Linked DNA regions of Homo sapiens. The protein of the gene in region 3 binds, or shares a complex with, the protein of the main gene of each other region. Each region holds a gene or a part of one and is shown on either strand. Other genes may lie near its edges.

Evidence for each region.
Region 1: MCM4 (region 3) and GINS1 share a complex: the UniProt entries of both Homo sapiens proteins name them as parts of the CMG helicase complex.
Region 2: MCM4 (region 3) and CDC45 share a complex: the UniProt entries of both Homo sapiens proteins name them as parts of the CMG helicase complex.

The regions. Positions count from the first base shown.
Region 1 is NC_000020.11:25,403,105-25,410,672, reverse strand, and holds the start of GINS1 (DNA replication complex GINS protein PSF1), read right to left. Parts: upstream 3,001-7,568; 5' UTR 2,853-3,000; coding exon 2,778-2,852; intron 2,603-2,777; exon of another isoform or gene 2,378-2,602; intron 1-2,377. UniProt on the Homo sapiens protein: Required for correct functioning of the GINS complex, a complex that plays an essential role in the initiation of DNA replication, and progression of DNA replication forks.
Region 2 is NC_000022.11:19,517,871-19,521,180, reverse strand, and holds the end of CDC45 (cell division control protein 45 homolog), read right to left. Parts: intron 2,338-3,310; coding exon 2,273-2,337; 3' UTR 2,272-2,272; intron 701-2,271; 3' UTR 573-700; downstream 1-572. UniProt on the Homo sapiens protein: Required for initiation of chromosomal DNA replication. Core component of CDC45-MCM-GINS (CMG) helicase, the molecular machine that unwinds template DNA during replication, and around which the replisome is built.
Region 3 is NC_000008.11:47,970,820-47,977,940, reverse strand, and holds part of MCM4 (DNA replication licensing factor MCM4), read right to left. Parts: coding exon 7,065-7,121; intron 6,601-7,064; coding exon 6,473-6,600; intron 5,085-6,472; coding exon 4,877-5,084; intron 3,208-4,876; coding exon 2,979-3,207; intron 2,227-2,978; coding exon 2,093-2,226; intron 1,256-2,092; coding exon 1,163-1,255; 3' UTR 1-1,162. UniProt on the Homo sapiens protein: Acts as a component of the MCM2-7 complex (MCM complex) which is the replicative helicase essential for 'once per cell cycle' DNA replication initiation and elongation in eukaryotic cells.

The DNA.
Region 1 (7,568 bases), on a different chromosome or scaffold from region 3:
GGAGAATTGCTTAACCCAGAAGGCGGAGGTTGCAGTGAGCCGAGATCACACCATTGCACTCCAGCCTGGGCCACAGGAGCGAAACTCCCATCTCAAAACAATAAAAAAAAGAGAAAAGCCTGTGTGGTCCTTGGGCCTCTCAGATCCACTGTCAGCCTTCCTCTGTGCCGCTGAGTCGGAGGCCAGCCTCTGCAGGCTGACTAAGTGTTCCAGGCTGCTGGATCACCTTGAGTATCAGGTGGGTTTGTCAGTGGAAGGCACTAGTGAGACAAAAGGTGCTCCACCAAATTAAGACCTACAAGACAGTGATTCTACAACTTTTTTTTTTTTTTGAGGCGGAGTCTCTCTCTGTCGCCCAGGCTGTAGTGCAGTGACCCGATCTTGGCTCACTGCAACCTCCGCCTCCCAGATTCAAGCCATTCTCCTGCCTCAGCCTTCCGAGTAGCTGGGACTACAGGCACATCCCACCACGCCTGGCTAATTTTTTGTATTTTTAGTAGATACGGGGTTTCACCATGTTAGCCAGGATGGTCTCAATCTCAGGACCCTGTAATCCGCCCGCCTCAGCCTCCCAAAGTGGGGGGATTACAGGCGTGAGCCACCACTCCTGGCCTGATTCTACAACTTCTAAGACCAGCCCCTAGCCCCACAAAGTGATAACCCAACACTTAACTTAAAATTTGAGTAAAACAGAGAGCTAAACTAAGTGTCAGAGTCAGGTCCAAAATCCAGCTTGGCCGCACCTGTTTGCACAGTCTCTCTGTTCTCTAGGCCTGTGTCCTGATATGTACAATGACCTCTAAAGTTCCTAGTTCTCAGGCCACATTTTAGCATTTACACACTTCTGCATTCAAGCATCTCTACTGAGCTGCAGACTGCTGCCTAACTTTTTAAATGAGGTAACTGCTCTGAAGTTGAAAAAACAATTGACTAGAAACTGGAAAACCTGTGTTCAAGTTGAAGCTCTACCTCCAATATGCTGTAAATTCAGACGAGTTCCTTAACTTGACCCATAATTTGTGTCAGCTCAGTTTCTTCATTTGTAAGACAATCTAATTGTCTGGCTAGGTGCTCTTTAGTGTTCAAAACAAAACTCATTACCTTTCCCAACACACTCTATCTCCTGAACTCTGATGTTGTTTACCCAGTTTCCTAAGGATCCTCCAAGATCCCAATTCCTCCCTCTTATTCATTATGGACCCCATCTCTGCCCCTGCTCTAATAGCTACAAGTCATGTTTGCTTCATGTCTCTAAAACCCAAACACTGATCTCAGTGCCACTGACCTGACACAGTTCAGACCACACACCTCTCACCTGCTCTATCAGCCACCCAGTAGCCATCTCCCTGTCCCATTCTTTCCTCTCTTCAATCCATTCCCCATATTGCTGCCGCAGTTACCTTCAAAACACAAAAATTACCCTATCACTTCCTTGTCTAAAATCCTCTACCAGCTCCCAGCATGCCTTATAAGTGAACAACAAATTCATGTAGGCTGTGAGCCACCTTCCTAGACTCCCCACAGGCCCTATTGGTCACCCTCTCCAGTGTGACCACGTGACTTTGTGCTGCAGCATCCTTTGGCTGGGATGCCTCGCTTCCTTCTCAGATCAGTAACCTCATCCTTGAGGATGGAAAGGCTCATATATCACCTCTTCTACCCCAGCTCATACTGGTGTTTCTCCTTCGTGCTCCTTGCTATACCTCCTTAGTATCACTTAGCGTGGTGAATTCTATTATCTGTTTTTGTGCCCATCTTCCAGCAGAATGTGTCCTGACATCCACATAATGCCTGCTCTATGACGTAAGTGAAATATACAATTTAGAGTGCAGGCTCTGGAGCCAGAGTGCCAGGGTTCAAATCCTAGCTTTCTTGCTGTGTCACCTTAGGCAATATACTTAAATCTCCCCAATCCTATGCATATATAGCTGAAAAAAGTAGAAAACAATAGTTTAAACATCAAAAAGTTATTTTTGTTTTGTTTGGGACAGGGTCTCCCTGTCACTCAGGCTGGAATGCAGTGGCAGGATCAAGCGATCCTCCCGCCTCAGCCTCCCAAAGTGCTGGGATTACAGGCAGGAGCCATGGTACCGGGCCCTCAAAGGGTTATTAGAAAGACAAAAGATAATGTACATGAAGTGCTTAGCACTCTCCCTGGGGTAGCAGTGATAGAAAAATACAAATAATCATAATATTAATAGTAACAGCAGCAGCAGGAGAAAAGTAATATTAATAGCTAACACTGACTCAGCCCTTACTGTATGTGAGGCATATGCAGAGACCCTTACACATGCCACTCATTTTGCGTCCACTACATCATGCGTTGGGTACTATTATTGTCACCATCCCCATTTTTGCGTATGAGAAAACTGAGAGCACAGAAAGCTTGAGTAACTGCCCCAAAGTCACACTACAGAACCAGAATCTCAGCCAGGTTCCAGAGGCCTAGCTTTTACTGACCACGATTAGATGCCTGAGTGAGCAAGAAATGCTAAATTATCAGGCAACCTGTAAATATTTTAAGGGACCGGAACAAATCTGTCCAAGGAAAACTGCTAAAATGCAAAATTTGCTCAGATGAGGAAATTCACCAAATCGCTGGGTAGCGTAAGCATGAATGCTTTCTCTTTCCTCCTGAATTTTGTTTTGCTGCTTCCCAAGTTTTCCGGAGCTCGGAGGGAACAAGGTGCGAAAGTGAACCCTGACGGGGAGCCGCCCCGCCCCAGAGCCCAGGGCCCAACGCCGGCATGCCCCGTCCAAGTCTACCCGCCCCTCACGTTGAAGGCAGGCAGTTGCCCTTCGGGCGCGCGATGCAGCTCGCGGATCAGTTCCATGGCTTTTTCGCAGAACATGGCGGACGCTTCCCACTCCCGCGGCCTTGCCAACCACCAGCTCTCACGCCAAAATGGTATCTGGGCTCTCGGCGCCTCACTCCTTTCGTTCTAGTCCTACAGCGCCAGGCTCTCGCCTCGGCCTCCGCTCCGCGCTTTGGCGCCGAACAAAGCTAGCCAATAGGAACGCGCCTACGGCGCCCGAAAAGGGACATCCACCGCTCAGCCGCATTCCAAGAGGGGCGGAGTGGGAGGGGTCTTTCCAAGGTGAGGTCCCCGCCCCGGAGATGGCAGAACCCCTCGGCTGAGCAGAGACGGCTTTTCCAGTTCTCAGGCAGTGGGCCGGGGGACTCTACGGGCAGCAGAGCTGGAAATAAATGCACGCCCCGCAGCTTCCTTGTCATTTTCCTTTTGATTCATTCATTCTCGTTTAGGTTCAAGAAAAGAGCACTTTGAGGTTAAGAGGAAAGGCCCAAAAACTTGGTGTGCATTGGTAGGACGCAAGGGTTTCAGTTTTGCAGTGCGGGTTTTCTGTTTGATATTAAAATGAAACTCTCTTTTATTGGGTACCTAGTGCTGGTAGGGACTGCAGTGTGTATTTCATTCCCACAATTATCTCTGAAGTGTTTTAAGACCCGGGATTAATAAGGAAACAGAAGTTAGGTAACTTGCCCAAGGTCACACAGCTCCAGAGTGATTAGACTGTTATTTAGGCTTTCCATTTCCAACACCACAGTACCACCCTTTGATTTTAAAATAGTCTTTTAAAAATATTTGTAATATCTGCCCTAGATTAATACGAATTCACTAGGAATTTTCTTGGCTAGATGGTTATGGAATATTTCTTAAGCATATGGAAGATGGGAATCACTGCTAAAGAATTGTTTTATTAGGCAATTTTTCAAAAAGCAATGTTAATTTCTAACAAGCAATCTTGGATTTTTTTTTTTTTGAGATGGAGTCTCGCTCTGTCGCCCAGGCTGGAGTGCAGTGGCGCGAACTCGGCTCACTGTAAGCTCCGCCTCCCGGGTTCACGCCATTCTCCTGCCTCAGCCTCCCGAGTAGCTGGGACTACAGGCGCCCGCCACCACGCCCAGCTAATTTTTTGAATTTTTTAAGTATAGACGGGGTTTCACCGTGTTAGCCAGGACGGTCTCAATTTCCTGACCTCGTGATCCGCCCACCTCGGCCTCCCAAAGTGCTGGGATTACAGGCATGAGCCACCGCAACCGGCGCAATCTTGGATTAATTCTAGCTAACCCTAGAAACTATGTTGATCTTTTGCAAATATACAGTAGATATGTCATCTAAGGAATGGGCATGGGAATGGCCTACTCAGGCTTATGTTGAATAATGACATTGCCTTTTTTTTTTGGAGACAGGGTCTTAACTCCCGTTACCCAGGTGGAGTGCAGTGGCGCCATCTCAGCTCACTGCAGCCTCCACTTCCCGGGCTGAGGTAATTTTCCCCCCTCAGCCCTCTGAGTAGCTGGGACTACAGGCTCAGGCCACCACACCTGGCTATTTTGTATTTTAAGTAGAGACAGGGTTTCACCATGTTGGCCAGTCTGGTCGACAACTCTTGAGCTCAAGGGATCCGTCCGCCTGGGCCTCCCAAAGTGCTGGAATTACAGCGTGAGCCACCGCACCCAGCAAACATTGCCTTTTTGAAACCGCCTTTGAAAAAATTATAATAGAGAAAATTATTACAGTGAAAGAGATCTGACCTAACTGGCTCCATCTTGCTTCTAACCGCCAAGCCATCCTTGTTCATTCCTGGGCTTAGGGCGAATTAACTTGGGGAGAAACTTAGTTTATAGTTTAATTTTGAAACAAATACTTAGCCCTTTACCAAAGCGAAACCCTTTTTGTCTGGGGACTAGATTGCCTTTGCAGGAGTAACAGAGTAGCCACAAGACTAGAAATTTACGAGTCTCGCAGCGGGAGGCTACAAGATTCTAAAACCTCCCCAAGTGCTCCTAGGGATAGCAGCACTATTATAAAACCTAAGACCAGTGCTTGAGATATTTTGTAGACCCTGCACTTGATGGGATCAGCTGGCACCACCCAGATCGATAAACTGGCTCATCTGGTCTTGTGGTCCCCACCCAAGAACTGACTCAGCCCAAGAGGACAGCTTTGACTCTCTATGATTTTATCTCTCATCCAACCAATCAGCACCCCTCACTTTGTGACCCCCTACCCACTAAATTATCCTTTAAAATCCCTATCTTGGAGTTTTCTAGGAGACTGATTTGAGCGATAATAAAACTCCAGTCTCCTGTACAGCTGGGTCTGCGTGAATTAAACTCTTTCTCAGCCAGGCCCAGTGGCTCACGCCTGTAATCCCAGCACACTGGGAGACTGAGGCGGGTGGATCACCTGAGGTCAGGAGTTCGAGACCAGTCTGGCCAACATGGTGAAACCCCATCTATACTAAAAATGCAAAAATTAGCCTGTCCGGGCATGGTGGCTCACACCTGTAATCCCAGCACTTTGGGAGGCCAAGGTGGATGACCTGAGGTCAGAAGTTCAAAACCAGCCTGGCCAACACAGCGAAACCCCATCTCTACTAAAAATACAAAAAAATTAGCTGAACATGGTGGCACACGCCTGTAATCCCAGCTACTCAGGAGGCTGAGGAAGGAGAATTGCTTGAACCCAGGAGGTGGAGGTTGCAGTGGGCCGAGATCTCACCACTGCACTCCAGCCTGGGTGACAGAGTGAGACTCTGTCTCAAAAAAAAAAAAAAAAAAATTAGCTGGGCCTGGTGGCACATGCCTGTAATCCCAGCTACTTGGGAGGCTGAGGCAGGAGAATCACTTGAACACTGGAGGCGGAGGTTGCAATGAGCTGAGATTGTGCCATTGAGCTCCAGCCTGAGCGACAGAGCAAGACTCTGTCTCAAAAAACAAACAAACAAACAAACAAACAAAAAACCAAAAAACTCTTTCTCTATTGCAACTCCCCTGTCTTGATAAATCAGCTCTGTCTGGGCAGTGGACAAGGAGAATCCCTTGGGCAATTATATTTTCATCTCTACAGTAAGGAATAGTTTATCTAGGTGTTTTTCCCAAATACACAACTCTAGACTGGACTATGCTGCAGGACTGAATCAAAGACCAGCATGCACTACCCTCCTCAGCCATAGGCCTTTTTAATTTCAGCCCAGAGGCAAAGTTCATTAATGACCCCAAGACTCACTTCCTTAACAGTAGAATGAGAACAGTGGAACCACCTCTAAGGAGTTAAGATGATTCAGTCATACCTTCTGCAAATATTTATGAAATGCCTAGTGTTGAAGTTAAAACCAAACTCTAAAATATTTAAAGAGATTTATTCTGAGCCAATGAGTGACCATGGCCCAGGAACAGCCTCAAGAGGTCCTGAGAAAGCGTGCCTGAGGCAGTGCAGTTACAGGTTACAGGTTGGTTTTATGTATTTTAGGGAGACAGGAATTATAGGTAAAATCATAAATCAACACATGGAAGGTGTACTTTTGTTCAGCCTAAAAAGGTGGGATATCTTGAAGCAGGGAGCTTACAGATTTTCTGATTAGCAATTGGTTGAGTCAAGTTTTGTCTAAAGACTGTCAATAGAAGGAAATTATTGAGTTAAGGGGGAGGTTGTGGAGACCAAGTTTCTTGTTATGTGGATGAAGCCTCATAGGCAGCAGCCTTCTGAAAGAATTGATGGTAAATGTCTCTTTTTGGATCTTAAAAGGTGTGTTAAACTCTTGTTTAACCTCTCCTAGATTCAGGAAAGACCTGGCTGCATTAACGGAGATTCTTAACAGATGCAAATTCCCCACACAAAAGATGGCTTTCCAGGGCCATTTCAAAATATTTCAAAGAAATATATTTTGGGGTAAAACATCTTGATTTCCTTCAGAGTCTGCTATCTGTCATGTGATGCTACATCAGTCAGGTTGGAGTTTGGACCTTATTGCCACAAAGAGTGTGTTTGTGAGTCTTAGGATCTTTATTTTAATGTTAATGCTGGCCAGTTGCACCTATACTCCAAAAGGGAGGGGGTACAACAAGGTGCATCCCATCTTGCTTCTTGTCATAGCCGATAATTCCATTTTTGTTTTTTTTCAGGTTTCCCTGGGGTCCCCTTGGCCCAGAAGGGGTCCATCCAGTCAGCAGGGGATGGAGGGTTTGGGATTTTATTTTTGGTTTACACTAGTATTAGCCTGGCATTGACCTAGATACTGAAAATAAAGCAGTAAACAAAGTCCTTTCTACAGAGTCTACATTCCAGTGTGGGAAAACGCAATACACAGATACACTGATAAGAAATATATTGGTGAAAAAGCACTAAGAATAACCCAAAGAAGATGAATAGAGTGAAGGTGAAAGAGTCAGGGTTTTGAGTTCAAGTGTTCAGAGAAGGCACAGACCTGAACAGGGAGAAAATAACCCAAGTGGTTATGGGCCTTAGGGAAGGCAGGAAATTCCAGGCAGAGGAATCAAGCTGCAAAGGCCCCAGGAAGGTCGGCTGAGGATGAGCAAAGAGGCAGTGATGCTGGAGCAGGTTGATGATAGGAGAGGCCAGCAGTCAGGTCAGATGTTGGGAGCTGAAAAGGCCAAAGGGATTGTGACCAACTCAGCATTCCACTGGAGGCTATATTATCAAACAGCAAACTGTTTATCAAGAATGCAGGATGTGAGCAAACTCACACTGTGCCTGCCACCAAAAGGTTGGCTGAGGGCCGCGCTCCCTGGTGCCGGGCTC
Region 2 (3,310 bases), on a different chromosome or scaffold from region 3:
GCTCAAGGGTCCCGGGAAGCTGTGCAAACCACCAGAGGTGAGGGGAGGGGCCCAGCCTCCAGTCCAGCTCTCACCCTTTTGTGCCCACTGCCCTTTGCCAAGGGCTGCACCAAGACCAGCCCCACCTACCTGTGTGCTCTTTTCCAGGCCACTCTTTCTGAGCTTTTCCCCACTGACTTAAAACCTACCCAAATCACTCCTGCCTTCAAAGACCTGGAAAAGAGTGCTGGATGGTGAGACCCACAGGTGGAGGGATGGCTGAGAGGGTGGACTTGCTATGTGGCTGAGGCCAGGTGGACCAGAGGAAGTGGTAGGTGGACAGAGCCAGGTGCTGGCTGGCACCACCAGGCAGTGGCCGGTGCAGGTGCTATGAGGAGGCGGGGATGCCGAGGGGTCCTGACCTCTGTCCACTGCCACCCGGAGGGCCTGGAGGACAGAGTAAGGAGATCTTGTCCTTGGGGCCAATCCCCATGCTGATTTCCTGCCAGGCACTGAGGGCTCCTGGGGCCCAAGACCCACAGAAGGCTCAGAGCACACTCAAGCACTGGCCTCGAGACCAGAGCCACAATGGGGACGGAGCCTAAAATAAGCATTTTATTTAATAAAAAATGGCTTCTACATCTCAAATCATGTCCATAACTTACAATCTAAATGAAAGCCAGTTACATAAATAAGAAGGTCATTCTGGAAGAATCAAATTCTAGAAAACAAAACAAGAAAAAACAAGTTTCAAACGATGTTGATGTGCCACCGAATTGAAGAAACTGCCCAGGCGTCCCCTCTGGGTAGTGCTGCTGAGTAGCCAGGACTGCTTGTGGGGGTGAGGCCACCCCAGACTCGGAGGCCCCTGCTGTCCTCATAGCACCCCTTGACTGGGCTGAGCTGTCCTACATCAGAGCTCCTGCCCCCTGGCCCGGGCACCTTCTTACCTCACGGACCCCGCCCAGCTGCTCAGCCAGCCCCCTGGCACCCTCCCATGGGGGCTCTCCCTCCATCCCTCGGCACTCTGCTGCTCAGCCCTCCTAGCCCAGGCCACCTGTGCCCCTGCCTCAGTGGAAGGACACACAGCAGCATAACATCACCACCAAGCAGGCTGCAGGGGAGGGGTTTGCCTCTAGCACCCACTCCACTGCCAGAGAGCCCCACCTCTGCCTCCGCCCCACCCTATGCAGTCCTGTGATGCTCACACTCATCGTCTAAGGAGAGAGTGGGCCCCATTTTTGGATGAGGAAACAGGCTAAGCCTGATTAGGTGGCTGGCCCAAGGTCACTGCTGATGACCCTACAGAACTTGCCAAAAACCCCGAGGGTCTGACTCAGAGCCCCGCGCCCAAAATGGGCCCCATGTAGCCCAGGCCACCCTGAGAGGAACTGTGGGGTCCCTGAGGCCCCCTATGCTGTTGTCAGCAGAAACCCCCACTCCAGCCCCAACAGGAGAACAGGTGCTTGCCCCTGGAGGGATGGACAGATGGATGGATGGACGGACGGATGGGAGAGTGGGGAGGACCCCAGGCCTGGCCTGAGGGACCTCCTGCAACAGAGTCTTGGCAGGGCCCATCTGCCACAGCCGCAGCCTCCAGGCTAGGGCTCTGGGAGATGCAGGGCTGGATGTGGCATTCCCTGTGGGGAACCTGGGCTGAGAGATGGTTACAAAGACACAAGGCAGGCCTATTTCCTGGGAACCCTTAAGAAAGAGGTAGCACATGGGGCAGTGGGAGGTGTCCCGGGACAGTGACCTGCCAGTGAATCCCAATGGGGCCCTCAGGACAGCTGTGTGCTGGTGAAGGCCCCAGCAGAACCAGCGCTTTGGAATTCCCAGCTAAGCGGCTGCCAACAGCTTTGCTTTCTCATGAGCCAAGCACACAAAAGCCCGGATGGCTGCTCTGCGGGCTCTTGCCCAGCGCCTGACACGAAGGCTGTGGGACAGGAGGCTCCAGGTGGCCTTCGAGGGCAGCACCAGGGAGTCTGTGTGTGACATGTGTCACACGCGATGCCCAGCCCAAGTGTGGTCAGCAGAGGGTGAATACCAGCTCTTTCTGAAGGGATCGCAGGGGCTTAATGAAATTAGCTGCCTCAAAATGCCCCATTGTGGCCCTGCTGGCAGCCTAAGGACAGATGTGCTTGGGAAAAATGTGTTGGCTCCAATCTCAAGAACCCTGCTTCGGTCTGAAACCCAAGTAGAAGCCTCCGTTGAGGGAGGACAGAGCAGGGCATCAGGGTCGGGCTCTGAGGGGGCTGCTGCAGCCACCCCTGCAGAACCCCTGTAACTCACCCTAGGACAGGAGGGAAATAAGTGCGTCCAGAAACTTGCTCCGATCCTCAGCTTTCAGCTCAATTACTGAAGTAATGAAAGAAAAACAGCCGTGAGAAGGGAGGAGTGGGAACACAAGACAGGGCACAGAACTCCCCTCCGCTGCCTGCCCTCCACTGCATTCCAAAGTGCGCGGCTCCTCCCGGCCTGTGGTATTCTGCACTCAGTGGTTGTGTCTGTCTCACTGTACTTCATCTTCACAACTGCTGTCTGCACTGCTAGAGAGGTCAGGGTTGGGGCCTGCAGGGAGAACTCCCCCCCGGGAAGACAATAGAGGTGACACAGGGAAGGGCCCTACAGACCTGGACAAACACGGGCCTGCCCACCCCAGCTGGCATGAACCCCCGTCCCCAGAGTGGGTTGTGGAAGTCCTTGGGTGGGGCAGGTCACTTTTGGCCGCACTCTGGCCAATTCCTCGGCTTCAGTGTTCTCTTCCGCACAAGGGGACATGGTGCAAACTGCCCATATCTCACAGGGCCCTCAGGCTCAGCTGAGCACCCAGACCCTCACCACAAAGCAAAACCAGGCCCCAGGATGGGGCTGGCCTGGCCCTGGGAGCCATCTATGCTGCCAGCCACAGCCCCGAGAGCCCCAGACCCAGCCCACGCAGGTGGGCACTAGACATGGCCCACTCTGCACCCTCACCCCTGGCTCTCCACCCTCAGGGAAACCAAGCAGTTCCCAGCCCGAGTCCTCCCTGTATACTGAAGGCCAGATATTCTGCAGGCCAGTGGGTGTCCATCCACCTCTCCCACATCACAGGCACAAAAGAGTTAGCAGGGGCTGCTGTGCGGGGTGAACCAATGCCACACAGTGCCACAGCCATGGCTGGGTCTGGCTCAAGGAAGGCAGCTCTGAGATGGCTGACGCCACTTCAACAAAGGCTGGATCTCCCATGACAGTGTCTATCATTGTTGAGGAATCCGTGGTGATGAGGCAAGAAAATATCCTTTCTCAGAGGTGCAGGAAGTACTGAGGGTGTTATGAGCTGAACGGTCTC
Region 3 (7,121 bases):
GGTAACCAAGTATTATTCCTTCCATCATTTATTTAGGAAAAAGTTTTATGTATTAGGGTAAAGTGGTAGAAGTTAACCTAGAATCTAATAATCTCCAATCACCCATTCCTGATCTAATAGTAGCCATGAGAAAAAATCTCTAGAAAGAATCATACCTCTCAAAAAATAAAAAATAAAACAAAGGCTGGGTGCAGTGGCTCACACCTGTAATCTCAGCACTTCCGGAAGTTGAGGTGGGCAGATCGCTTGAGCCTAGGCATATCGCTTGCAGCCTGGGCAACGTGGCGAAGCCGTCTCTACCAAAAAATACAAAAAGTAGCCGGGCATAGTGACATACACCTGAGCCCAGGAGGTTAAGCCTACATTGAGCCGTGATTGTACCAGTGTACTCTAGCCAGGGTGACAGAGTAAGACCCTATCTCAAAAAAAGAAGTGCCATAAAAAAGAAAGGCTCTAGCCCTTTACCAATGAGGTGATATGCCCAGGCTATGCCTGTCATCAAATCCATAAGCATACTGATGATGGCCATGAGAAAGTCCAGCACACAAACCATGCCCCAGACTGCATCTGTGCATACACAGAGTAAAAGCCCTGCTGCTATACTATAAAATGGCACCTGAAAATAATCTCTACGGTATGTTTGAAAATTGGCAGGTTTTTTTTTTTTTTTTTTTTTTGAGACAGTCTCACTCTATTGCTGAGGCTGGAGTGCAGTGGCGCGATCTTGGCTCACTGCAACCTCTGCCGCCTGGGTTTAAGCGATTCTCCTGCCTCAACCTCCCGAGTAGCTGGGATTACAGGCGCATGCCATCAAGCCCAGCTAATTTTTTGTTATCTTTACTAGAGACGGGGTTTCACCATCTTGGCTAGGCTGGTCTTGAACTCCTGACCTCATGATCCACCCACATTGGCCTCCCAAAGTGCTGGGATTACAGGTGTGAGCCACCGCGCCCGGCCAGCATAGTATTTTTATTTATAACGTGAAAAAAATGAAAACAGATACTTCACTACAAATATTGAACCCAAGTTAGAAAATTTTTATGCAGCCAAACCATGACTTTAAGCTCTATTTACACTGATGGCGGCCAACTGAGATGCAGACCACACCCATGTGGCGTGCAGCAAGCAGGACATGCAGGGAGCCTTCCTTGCTCACAAGGCTTCAGAGCAAGCGCACGGTCTTCCCAGTCACTGTCAGGAAATCATCATCTGCCAGGGCACGCAGTGCTTCTTCAAACATATCTTTAGTAATTGCCTGTGGGGAAGAGAAAGAAAATAAATATTGTACACGTCAAGTCCCTCCTTTACCTGTTAGAAACACAATAATTATAATGTTAAAGTACCACCCAGAATCTTTCTCTTTTTGGTGGCTGTACACATGCCTTATGCTCTAAATCAGGAGTGGAGTAGCCAGATGGTCCATGTGGTAGACTTGGCATCTGTATAGTCCACGTTGTAACTATCAACTCTGCCCTCTCAGTCACAACACAGCGATGGAAAGTGGACCAGCACTGAAAGACTGCATAGTTCTTTTCACTAAACAACTACCTTACTTATTTACAAAAGGACACCCAAATATTTCATACCTAAAGCAAACTTATAACAACTATGAAAGGGGCATAACAATTTTTTCTTTTTTTTTTTTTTTGAGATGGAGTTCCGCTCTGGTGCCCAGGCTGGAGAGCAATGGTGGGATCTCAGCTTACTGCAACCTCCGCCTCCCAGGTTCAAGCAATTCTCCTGCCTAAGCCTCCTGAGTAGCTAGGATTTCAGGTGCTTATCACCACATCCAGCTAATTTTTGTATTTTTAATAGAGACAGGGTTTCACCATATTGGTCAGGCTGGTTTCAAACTCCTGGCTGCAAGTGATCTGCCCACCTCAGCGTCCCAAATGAGATTACAGGCGTGAGCTACTGCACCCAGCCAAAAATTTTAATTGTGATTATTTCTTGATGATGGCTTATGGTTCATCTTCCTTTTCTTCATTCTTCTCTATATTTATTATTTAATAAATAAAGGAAAAAAACCCAAAAGCAATATTAAGGAAAAAGAGAAAGCTCTATCAAACAAAAAATACATATAAACACTTACTATGTCAGATTGTCCCCGAATATCTTCAAAAAGTTGCTGGTATTTTAGAGCTGGTGTTTTGCCCTTAGATAAAATAAGCTTTTTCAATGCTTCAGCTAATTCTTCTTTCCGTTTACGAGAGGTGGCACTCATCCCTGATTTAAAAAGAAATCAATGAAAACATTTTTGCTATTATGAAATGAAATGCTTCAAATTCTCAAAAATATTCCTTTAGTAGTATCACCTAGAAAGATAAGGCGACAGGGGCTGAGTACATTTGAAGGGAATGAGTTTTTAATTATTTGGAAATTTCTGTAAGCCACTAGCTGCTGCTTTCCTTAACAGTCTACACATCTGTGCAGCAAGCAGCTGCTGCTAAGAAACAAACAACTTCTCTAAAATGGGTTAACAAAACTTCCCAGACAGTCAAGGAGACAGAATCTCCTTAAAACTATACACAAAACTGGAATTGAACAATGAGAACACACGGACACAGGAAGGGGAACATCACACACCAGGGCCTGTTGTGGGGTGGGGGGAGGGGGGAGGGATAGCATTTGGAGATACACGTAATGTTAAATGACGAGTTACTGGGTACAGCACACCAACATGGCACATGCGTACATATGTAACTAAACTGCACGTTGTGCACATGTACCCTAAAACTTAAAGTATAAAAAAAAAAAACAAAAAAAAACTATACACAAAACTGTGTGTGTTAATCAATATTTTTATCAAGATAAGATTAAAGGGCAACTTTCATCAGATTCTCAAAGGGGTCCTAATCCAAAAAAGGTTAAGAACTTCTGTTTCAAATGATTTAACTGTTAGCTTAAATCTGACATATAAACTACATGCATATTGAAATAATTTTCAAAAGCTTTTCTGTTCACTGAAAATAACGAACCCGTAGTAAGAATAGATATGTCCACGATGCCAGTCCGGGGATCAGTTGCAGACTGCTTCAGAGCTTCCCGATGGAGGCGTTTGGCCTCTTCCACATCAATGGCTTCAACTTTGTTAGACAATCTTACTTTAGCATGGGCTTCTGCTAAGCGGATTAATGACTCTAGCTGTCGAGGGTATGCAGAAACCATTCCCCGGCTACTGCCAATCTTCCTCATGTCTACATAAGCCTATTGTAGGTAGAAAAACAAAAGCAAAAGCAAACCTCCTTGGTGACAACTTTAGTTTTGTGGGTGAATTTTGAACACTTAGGCTTCCATTAAGTAAACGGAACTCAGATATGGTCCTGGGCCCCGGAGCTCATCAAGTGGTAGAGACTACACAGACAGACCACAGAAATCGCAGGTGAAGACATCAACGTGCAGCGTGCAGTGGTGGGTGAACATATTCCAACTGGGAGATGCTTGGGAAGAATTCTTGGAGAGGGTGGCATCTAACGTAGCTCTGAAGAACAGAGACGGGCATGGCGTGGCAGAGGGAAGGAATGTGGCATGTGGGGAGAGGAGAAGGCTGTGAGCACTCATAGGGAGAATCAGGCCTGTCTGGGAAAAGTGCTCACATGGGGCACAATGGGGCTCATAAGGATTGCTGGGAGAATGCTGCAAAGGTAAGTTGTATCAATTTCACATACAGATGACACAGTCTTATTTCTTCATTAACAACCCCCAAGACTATGACACACAAAAAAATTACATAATGTCTGTAACTTTCATCTTAGAATTTTTAGGAGCTCAGTTAGGATGCAAAGCTCATCAAAGCACCAGGAACCTTCTTAATATCACAATGCTTGAATAACCTAAATGTGCCATCATGCACTTCAGCTCATGTACCAGGATGCTGAAAAGTGAACCTAAAAGACAGCTCATTCTGTTTTTTACAAGCAAAAGGAAGCTTACAGAAACTGGATGACTTTTTCAGTTTCCAAATTACTGTGTAGTGTTGCCTCTATTTGAAACCAGGTCTTTGATCTTAAATTCACTATGCTTGTAAGTACTTAAACATATAAAGTGTGTGTACTACCTACATAAATGAACTATTTCCCCCTTTTGCAACATTTGGAAAGATCAATTTTGCAATATGGGAGGAAGTAATAAACAGTTATAAAAAATAGTATATTGCTAGGCGCGGTGGCTCACGCCTGTAATCCCAGCACTTTGGGAGGCCGAGGCAGGCGGATCACGAGGTCAGGAGATCGAGACCATCCTAACACAGTGAAACCCCGTCTCTACTAAAAATACAAAAAATTAGCCAGGCGTGGTGGTGGGTGCCTGTAATCCCAGCTACTCAGGAGGCTGAGGCAGGAGAATGGCGTGAATCCGGGAGGTGGAGCTTGCAGTGAGCCGAGATCGCGCCACTGCAGTCCAGCCTGGGGGACACAGCGAGACTCCGTCTCACAAAAAAAAAAAAAAGAAAAGTTTATTATTCTTAGGCCCAGCATGGTGGCTTGCGCCTGCAATCCTAACACTTTGGGAGGCAGAGGCTGGCGCATCACTTGAGGTCAGGATTTCAAGACCAGCCTGGCCAACACGGTGAAACTCTGTCTCTACTAAAAATACAAAAATTAGCCGGAGTGGTTGTGGGCACCTGTAATCCCAGCTAATAGGGAGGCTGAAGCAGGAGAATCGCTTGAACCCAGAAGCACAGGCCACAGGCTGCAGTAAGCCGAGATCAAGCCACTGCACTCCAGCCTGGGCAAGAGAGCCAGGCTCTGTCTCAAAACAAGGAAGAGAACAGTATGTTATTCGTAACAAAATAATTAATATTTTAAAGGAGATGATTGGTCAGTTACATTAATGCTGTGGGCTACAGGCACAGTAAGCCTTTTTTCAGCAGGGTTACCTCGATGAGAGCCTGGCTGGCTTCCTCACTTAGCCGCGGCATGATGGTGCTGTGCGCGTAGGCAATGTAGTCCTTTAGCACCGCCATGTCCAGGAGCTCCTCCTCTGCCTGCTCCTCGCTCTGGTAGTACAGTGCGACCAGGTGGTGAGCCAGACGCCTGTCATAGGCTTCGTCCTGAGGGTCCAGCAAGAGGAAGATCAAATCAAACCTAAGAAAACAAAGTAAAAATACTGTTTTTCCAGCACCTTGTGAGGCCGAGGCAGGTGGATCACCTGAGGTTGGTAGTTTGAGACCAGCCTGGCCAACACGGTGAAACCTTGTCTCTACTAAAAATGCAACAATTAGCCAGGAGTGGTGGTGCCTGCCTGTAATCCCAGCTACTTGGGAGGCTGAAGCAGGAGAATCGCTTGAACCTGGAAGGCGAAGGTTGCGGTGAGCCAAGTTCGCGTCACTGCACTCCAGCCTGGCCGACAGAGGGAGACTCTGTCTCAAAAAAACAAACAAAAAAACCCAAAACAACAACAAAAAAACTGTTTTCCTAGTTGAGACACCAATACACCTACAAACGACGTACTAAAGACTGCTTGAGCACCACAGATGTGCAGTCAATGTGCACCCTGTGAGCGCCATCAGGGAGAAGCATCTTTGCCTGGTGTGGAAAGGGCCTTCGTGTCCATCCACTCACCCCACTCACCCTGTGCTGTCCCTAGTCCTTAGGTCGGCCCAGGGAACGGCTGGGGACCAATCAGCTGAGTCAAAGGAAGTCTTCCCTTAGGGAAACGTTACTATAATTTTGACGATGGAAAGTTTTTTTTTTTTTTTTTTTTTTGAGACAGAGTCTCACTCTGTAGCCCAAGCTAGAGTGAAGTGGTATGATCTCAGCTCACTGCAATCTCCACTCCCCCAGGCTCAAGCAATTCTTGTGCCTCCTCAGCCTCCCGAGTAGCTGGGATTACAGGCATGCGCCGCCACGCCGGGCTAATTTTTTGTATTTTAGTAGAGATGGGGTTTCATCAAGTTGCCCAGGGTGGCCTCAAACTCCTGAGCTCAGGCGATCCACCCACCTCAGCCTCCCAAAGTGCTGGAATTACAGGTGTGAGTCACTGTACCTGGCTGACAATGGAAAGATTTGAATGAAAACACATTCAACTGTTTTTTTGGGAAAAAAAACTTCTGTCAAAAAAAAAGAAAAAAAAGCAAGTAATTAAAACCTAAAATCCATTTATGAAAAATGTCCAATATTTGTAGTGGGGCCAAGAGTGAAGATTATGTGATTGCACTTTAATAAATCTAACTTTTCAGAGCCTCATCTACTGTACGGAATTGTTCTCTGTTGACTCTCAGCAGTGGCTTTAGGACTAAGAGTAGTGAGTGACAGCCATGTGTAAACGGCGTGGGAGGTAAACATCCCAACTGCTTAAAAAACAAATGAGAACACACATCATCCTTGTCGTGAAAACTCTTGACCAACCAAATTTGAAACATCTTGATAAGAGTGAAGAGTTTCCATTAGCAGTTGCTGAAATCTTAGTAGCTCCTTTTCAATCTCACCCTGAATATTCTACAAATGAACAAAATAAAAATCTGTTTTAATACCTTGATAATAAAGTATGAGGCAGCTGGATGTTTTCAATGGTTGTTTTTTTAGGATTCCACTGAGACTCAATGGGATTTGCTGCTGCCAGGACAGAGGTGCGCGCATTGAGCTGACAGATGATCCCAGCCTATCAGAGCAAAGAGTGCAGTTAGAAGCCTCTCCCTGACGCTGGCAATTAACAAGCACCGTCTTCGCCCGGCCACCTACTAAACCCATATTCCCTCCACTGAGTTTCTATTGCCTGAGCCATGTTGCCTTTACTGACTTCAGCAGTTCACCTGGATAAGCCCTGTCCTCAGATTCATGCCAAGGACTGAGTTTAGATGAATGTGTGCTATAACCACATCTTTCTCAGGAAGCAGGCACCTTGCAAGAGCTTTAGGACAAATTCAAGGCTAGTACAGCAATAAAGACAAAACGTGACACCCTGTAGAAGACATGTTGAGATTTAGCTGAAATATGATGTGGAAAGCACTTATCAATCTCCCCAAGTTAGAACCAAGGTAGCACAGCACAGTTCCACAGACCCTGTCTTTCAAGGGTCCACATATTTTAAACACGTCCATGTTCACGGTGGAGAAGGCGACTCACCTTTGCAATGGACAGAGTCTGCTGTTCCATGACTTCATGCAATACCGATCTTGTACT